2 linked regions of the Homo sapiens genome follow. The protein of the gene in region 1 interacts with the protein of each later gene in a pairwise test. Each region holds a gene or a part of one and is shown in the gene's direction. Other genes may lie near its edges.

What was found.
Region 2: the proteins of FAIM (region 1) and RSPH1 interact in a two-hybrid assay, tested with the Homo sapiens proteins (one large-scale study listed by BioGRID and IntAct).

What each region holds. Positions count from the first base shown.
Region 1 is NC_000003.12:138,625,477-138,629,294, forward strand, and holds part of FAIM (fas apoptotic inhibitory molecule 1), read left to right. Parts: intron 1-3,630; coding exon 3,631-3,680; intron 3,681-3,818. UniProt on the Homo sapiens protein: Plays a role as an inducible effector molecule that mediates Fas resistance produced by surface Ig engagement in B cells.
Region 2 is NC_000021.9:42,472,031-42,475,848, reverse strand, and holds the end of RSPH1 (radial spoke head 1 homolog), read left to right. Parts: intron 1-2,978; coding exon 2,979-3,031; 3' UTR 3,032-3,363; downstream 3,364-3,818.

The sequences.
Region 1 (3,818 bases):
TTGATAATAATTTAAAAATATTATTTGTGGTGATTATTACTACTCATGGGCAAAGAATGGGCTTATCTAGAGTCTCCTGGTAAAATTCACTCTTGTATGTTATGTGGCAAGTTTCAAATAACAATATTATATGACTTGCTAAATTTTATATTGAGAAATTAGAGCAAGGCCACAAAAAAGCTTTGAATAACAAAACATTATGATTTACTAAGGTCATATTATGTGCCAGATACTATACTAGGCACTTTATATAATTATTTCTAACCCTTATAACAGCCTATGGGAAAGGTGGTATCATCTTCATTTGCCCCTGAGGAAATGGAAGCTCAGAGTGGTGGTGACTTGCCAAAGGGTACTGCTAGTAAAGAGTGATGCTGAGAGCTGACCTCAAAGATCATGTGCATTTTTTTTCACCACCTAAAAAATGTGAGGCATATAAGGGCAATGAAAACAGGGTTGGTTAGCATTCTCAGCTCTTGTAGTCTCCACACCACTGAATACCATGGGAGGAAAATAAAGCTGGCAGGAGGAAAGTACATATGAAACTTCACGCTGGAAGGAAATTCTCTTTCTGTTCTGAAAAGTTTCTCTTTGATAGCATTTACAGAACATAACCTGCTCAGGACTCACCTGGGAAGTCCCTAGCTATTGTTCATGCGGCTGAGGGAATCCGCAGGCAAAGAGGAGATGCTCCAAGATGAACATGCAGCAGCAACTCCCATGAGTCACTAAATCCAGCACTGAGTCATAATAGATTTGAAATTTTATCAGCTAGATATGTCCTTTTATTAACATACCACTTTGAATAGGTTACATACTCAAGATTCAGAAATCAAAATGCTATTAAAAGACACATTAAAAAGTCTTGCTTCCATCCCTGTTCCCATCTGCCATGTTCCCCCATCAAGATAACCATTTTTAGTGTCACTCTAGTGTTTCTTTATTCAGATTCAAGCGAGTACACATATTCTCTCTTACCACATAAAAGCATCTTGCTTTATTCACTTATTATATTCCGAAGATCCTTTTATATCAGAACCTAAAGAACTTTTTCATATTTTTTATAGCTGCAGAGTAAATTTCAATAGTAAATGGTGTATTTAGCTCATTCCCAACTGATGAACACTTGAGCTGTTTCTAATCTTTTGCTGTTAGAAGCAATGCTGCATGAATAGCTTTGTTTGCATGCCTCTTGGAACAGGACACATATTATATTAGTACACATTTCTGGAAGTAGGAAAGTAGGACTTCTATTCTTCTGGGTCAAAGACTAATTGTATTTGTCATCTTAATAGATTTTGCCCATTTGCCTTCCATGGTACTTTTACCATTTTGTACCCCCGTTAGCTATTTTCCCCAGGTTCTCCAGCAGAACATGTAGCCAAACTTTTGGATTTTTTGGCATTCTGCTAGGTGAAGCAATGGTATTTCAGGGTTGTTTTTGTCTTTTTCATAAGTGAGGTTGAGCATCTTAGTTTTAAGTTTCTTTTGTATTTCCTTTCTCATGATGCCTGTTCATGCCCTTTGCCCCATTTTCTTTTGGTTGTTGGTCTTTTTCTCCTTGATTTCTCATAGTCTTCACATTAGTAAGTTTAGTCCTTTGTTCATGCTGTGAGTTTGACATATTTTTTTCAGAGTTTGTCATTTATTACATGACTTTGCTAATGTGTGTGCATTTTTCTTCAATTGTGCTGTGGCTTTTTTACTTTTTTTTTTTTTTCCCAAGACAGGATCTCACTCTGTCGCCCAGGCTGGAGTGCAGTGGTGCAATTTTGGCTCACTGCAACCTCTGCCTCCTGGGTTCAAGCAATTCTCCTGCCTCAGCCTCCTGAGTAGCTGGGATTACAGGCGCCCGCCACTACGTCCAGCTAATTTTTTGTATTTTTAGTAGAGACGGGGTTTCACCATGTTGGCCAGACTGGTCTTGAACTCCTGACCTTGTGATTTGCCTGCCTCAGCTTCCCAAAGTGCTGGGATTACAGGCATGAGCCACCGTGCCTGGCCTTTTTTTGTACTTTTATGTAGTCAAATTTAATACATTTTCTTTTAGGGCTTCTGGATTAGTAGTGTTCTTCAGAGGCATGCTAATACGCTATTGTAGAAACTCTGAGTACACGTACATGTTCAGTAAGCATAGCAAGTAAAATACCAGTTTCTACCATCATCGTGGTTTATCATAGCACTGTGTGCACTGATCATGTCTTGGGACAAGTTGAGTTTACCTGCACCTGTGACTATAGCAGCTTTCTATGAAGGCTGCCACTGAGGTGACCCCTGCCCATATCTCCTGGACCCCTCTGGCTTTCTCTTTTTCCATCTAGCGCACCTCAAAGGCTTTTCTCCCATCTCTAAGTGAGGCTCCCATCTCAAGGTATGGGGAGAGAAAGAACCCCCTTTAGACTGTGCTCCTGGAGCAGATGGCCAGGCAGTAAGACCCTGGACTGGTGCCTCAAACCTGACCCCCAGACTCCTTGTGCACATACAGGCCATACTTCCTTCTCTTCTTCACTGTAATACCCAAAGCTCAACTTCTGGCTTCTTGATTAGTGTAGTCTTCTCTCCTGCTACTCCTGAGGACACTAACATTTGCAAGGGGCTCTGGGGACTCCTCCACCCTGAGATGAGCTATGGCAAGTTAACTGATCCATTTAAGTGTGTCGGGGCAGCATTTTGTTCCATATTGTTCCTTAGTGTGCAGTCCACCAGCTATACCTATTTTTTACTTGTAATCCAATAATTTTTCTCTAAACTGAAACCATTATGAAAAGGAATAGACATTATTGTACTACCTAGTAAGAAGCTGGACTAGATTTCTAAAGCGGACATGCTGTCTATCCTATATAAATCCCGTGGCAGCTGCTTTCAGTGGTCTTTTGTGCCATCACCCAGTTGGGTGAGTGTGGGAGGCAGGGGAGTCATCTGGTCAATATTGAAGGGCATTTTGTATGGAAGGGTCCCTCCTCACATTCATCTGTATGCATCCTTCTTTTTTATTTATTTATTTATTTATTTATTTATTTATTTTTGAGATGGAGTCTTTCTCTGTTGCCCAGGCTAGAGTGCAGTGGTGCGGTCTCGGCTCACTGCAAGCTCCACCTCCCAGGTTCACGCCATTCTCCTGCCTCAGCCTCCCAAGTAGCTGGGACTACAGGCACCCACCACCATGCCCGGCTAATTATTGTATTTTTAGTAGAGATGGGGTTTCACCGTATTAGCCAGGATGGTCTCGATCTCCTGACCTTGTGATCCGCCTGCCTCAGTCTCCCAAAGTGCTGGGATTACAGGCGTGAGCCACCGCGCCCGGCCTGTATGCATCCTTCTTTAAAGATTGTCCTTTTGGATTCATTTTGTTTCATAAGGCTTCATCAATTTGTATTAAGACCATAACTTTCTCTTAAAAGGTTGTTTTGTTTCATTATAGTTTTATGAACAAAGAACAAACACAGCTTCTTCAAATTTTAGGAGAGTCTGCAAGCCATGAAAGCCATGAAAAAGTGTTGGGTTTTGGAATATTAATGGAGTTTTAGAGATCTGGTATATCAATCCTTTCCTAAAGTAATAAATAGGAAAAGTTAACTTTATCTTTAAATCACAGAATTATAACTTAAAGTTTTTATGTTACCTTTACAGAAAAAGATGCTATGGACGTATGGTGCAATGGTAAAAAATTGGAGACAGCGGTAAGTTGACTATTTGATGACTCTAAGTGCCATGTGTCTCAGTTACCATTGAATTGTTGCTGCATTTCCTAATTATAGAGATCTTATAATGAATCAAGGCCCTCTTGATAAAAACAAAAAAGGGATTAAGTACTCCTG
Region 2 (3,818 bases), on another chromosome or scaffold:
ACGAACAGTGGGATTCCCCTTCCCTTCACCAAGGCCTGCCTTCAGCTGGGCCCCAGGGACTCGAGGAAGGCTTAGGGGGCCCCCTGTGAGCGCTCACTGGAGCCATCTCAGAACGTTGCTCCCTGGCAGGCCCTCCTGCAAGCCTGGCTGCAGTGGGAGAGGCCTGGGTGTGCAGCGGTGCCCATGCGCGTTGTCACAGGAGGACCGACCCCAGGCTGGAGAGCCCTGTCAGACATGCAGAGCCTGGCTTTCTTCTGTTGCATGATTTTTTTTTTTTTTTTGAGATGGAGTCTTGCTATGTCACCCAGGCTGGAGTACAGTGGTGCGATCTTGGCTCACTGCAACCTCCACCTCACTGGTTCAAGCAATTCCCCTGCCTCAGCATCCCAAGTAGCTGGGATTACAGGTGCATGCCACCATGCCCGGCTAATTTTTTTGTATTTTTAGTAGAGGTGGGTTTCACCGTGTTGGACAGACTGGTCTCAAACTCCTGACCTCACACAGGAGGCCCGCCTCGGCCTCCCAAAGTGCTGGGATTTGCATGATTTTTAGCAGGGCTGACTAACAGGAGTATGGTTTCAGACTAGTGGTGTCGGGAACTAGCTCTTTTTCAATGGGTTTGGATGTAAGATTAATCTAGAAACTTCTGCCTCTGCCAGCTCATAGGGCAGGGATTTGACCTCAGTTCTGACTGACTGAAGCCTCAGGCTCCTGGAATCTTTAAAAATCTTTCCCCAAGTGCTTGTGGGCACTTGCAGAAAGTCTGGAGAGAGGACTCGCTTCCCTTAACGCACTTTTCACATCTGACTGAAAGAGGGTGTCGTGCTTGTGAGGGAAAGGGCCATCTGGGAACAGCCTGGGCACGGCGGCCTCAGGCACGGGGTCTGCAGTCCCATTCCACTTAGTTTGTCTCTGTTGTAAATTAAGAATATACTTCCCATTCCTTTGAAAATAATACCTGAAATAATGAAATCACATAAAGCAGTTTTCTCTTAGATGCTTGAAGCACACATAGACTTTCGTGATCGGTAATTCCCCTGAGCGCTGGCATAGACTTTCGTGATCGGTAATTCCCCTGAGCGCTGTAGCAATGCACCCAGTGACGCAGTGCTGAGGTGGGACGTGGGGTCAGGTGGAAACCTGGCTTTACAAGTGAGCATCGTCTCTGCTTCTCTGACTTGCACAGGGAGGGTGGATAGAGTGAGCCCTGGTAGGTAGGGAGTCCACAGGATTCTGTTAGGACTGAGTGGCTAGAGTATGCACAGTGTTACAGCAGCATCTAGCTGTGCCCACAGATGTCAGTCCTTAGTCACTGTGGAGCACAGCTGGAGGGGGAGACACTGGGTTTGATAGGCAGTGTGGGAGTGAGGGGCTGGGCTCTCGCCCTCTAGCACCTAATGGGAAGCTGGAATAAAGGAATCAGTGAGTTCCCTGCAGTGACAGGGACGTGTTACCATGTACCCAGGAGAGGTGATGACTCACCTGGGGCAGGACCAGGAAACTCCGGGTTAGCTGGGAGGGAGGTGGCAAGGAATGGGTGAAACCAGGAAGGAAATTCCAGGCAGAGAGCAGAGTCTGACAGCAGAAGAGTGTGGGGGTGGGGAGGTGGCCCCTTTCCCTTGGAACCAGATGGCCTTTGAACTTGATCCTGAGCCCAGTAGGCGGGACCTCTGGGAGCTGTGGGGATTGCCTGTATCAGGCTTGCTCTCTGAGCTTCTCTGGGGCAATGAGGATGGGTGCCCTGGAGCCAGGCAAGGCAGGAGGCCCCAGAAACTTGGTGGGGGAGATAACGGAGGGGATGGAGCAGGAGGAATCCTGAAAACCGGACTGGGAGAGATGGGGCCGAGTGGACGATGCCCAGTACCAGCGGGCGTCTGAGACTGTGGGTTCATGCACCAGCCTTGGACAGAGGGAACACCCCCTTAACTCAGTGGTTTTGGGGCTCCAGGGGACATTTGGCAATGTCTGGAGACTTGGGAGGCTGGTGAGGGAGGTGCTGCTGGCATCTTCCTGGGTGGAGGCCGGGGACGGTGCTGAATACCCTGCAGGGCACAGAACAGCCCCCAGCAAAGGGTCACCCAGGCCACAGTGTCAGGAGGGCCCTAAGTGAAAAGGGAGTAATACAAAATAGGCTTAGTCGGCAGAACATTTATCAAAATAATGCAAGTTCAGCATGTATTCATCATGAATCCCACATTACATTGGAGATTTACCCTGCTAATTTCTTCTTTAATATACCCAACAGTGAAAGTTATAGAGTTTAATTAATAATAAAAAATAGCTCTACCTTTCACAAAACATTTAAATATAGCGTCTTATAAGAATGTGGCAAATTTCTGCTTTTTTTTTTTTTTTTTTTAAGATGGAATCTTGCTCTGTTGCTCAGGCTGAAGTGCAATGGCGTGACCTCGGCTCACTGAAACCTCTGCCACGGGGTTCAAGCGATTCTCTTGCCTCAGCCTCCCAAGTAACTGGGTTGACAGGCATGTACCACCATGCCCAGCTAATTTTTGTATTTTTAGTTGAGACGGGGTTTCACCATGTTGGCCGGGCTGGTCTCGAACTCCTGACCTCAAGTGATCCGCCTGCCTTGGCCTCCCAAAGTGCTGGGATTACAGGCATGAGCCACTGCGCCCGGCCTGCTTTTCTTTTAAATTAATAGCCAAGCAATTACATGTTTTAGCCACAAAGCTGGCTGTTTTGGACAGGTGTGCAGGCATAAGAGAATTACTGATGTTACATGGATAGTCTTGTCTTAGCATTTACTTTGAGTACGTATTTTGCTTATTTTATGTCGGGTACCAAAAGAAAAAACTGTTGAAGTGCATATGAGATAAAATTTAACATTCAATTTTTGACTGATGAATGCTTAATAGTTACAATAATTTTTTTCGGCAAAAGATCTGTTAGTGAATAAAGGCTTTAAAAATAGAACAAAGTAAATATGAGATATACTCATGTTTCTCTTTTCTTTTCAGGAAACATTAATTCTGAAGAAGAAGAAACTAGACAGTCAGACCTCCAGGACTAAGATGAAGTGAGCCGAGAGGAGATCGTATCATAAGAATGCTTCTGTCGTTAGCCGGGTGCAGTGCTGTGTGTATCTAGTTCCAGCTACTTGAGAGGCTGAGGCAGGAGGATTGCTTGAGTCCAGAAAGTGGCAGTTGCAGTGAGTGGAGATCGCGCCACTGCTCTCCAGCCTGGGTGGCAGAGCGAGACCCTGTCTCAAAAAATAAACAAAAACAAAATGCTTCTGTCAGTTAACAATCTTTATTAGAGGGTTTTTAGTCTTTCTTTCTCAGCTGTATGTTAAGTTGATTGACAAATGCAAATAAACGTCTTTATTATCCTTTCTTTCTGAAATAGCCTCTGCTTCAAGTTCTGTAAACTGAAGGTTACCACGTGGTTTTGCCATGGTTTTTCAGTGGTGTCTTCTCCTTGGATAGAGAAAACTGTAAATCTGCGGGAGACGGTGAATGGAAGTTTGGCTTCTGGCTGAGCTGGGAGAGTAGTTCTGTACCCAAACCCCTCTCTCAGATTTCCCACAAGGGAGGTAGGAAGCACTTAGAACATGAGGATTGCTGTGTGCAATGCTCCTCGAATGCAGTGTGATGGGTACACGGCCGGCTTGGGTAGGAGACCGCCCGCTGCCCCGCAGGGTTCCCTCCCACTCCTTCGCTTCTCCATGTGGAGCCCAGGCCCACTGTGGGGGCCCTGCAGGTGGCTGGGGAGAAGGGCTGCCCACAGGCCAGGCTTTGGCCTGTTTTGCACACGCTTCCGTTTCTTAGTGTACTGGAGGCTGCCACCTGCACCTCATT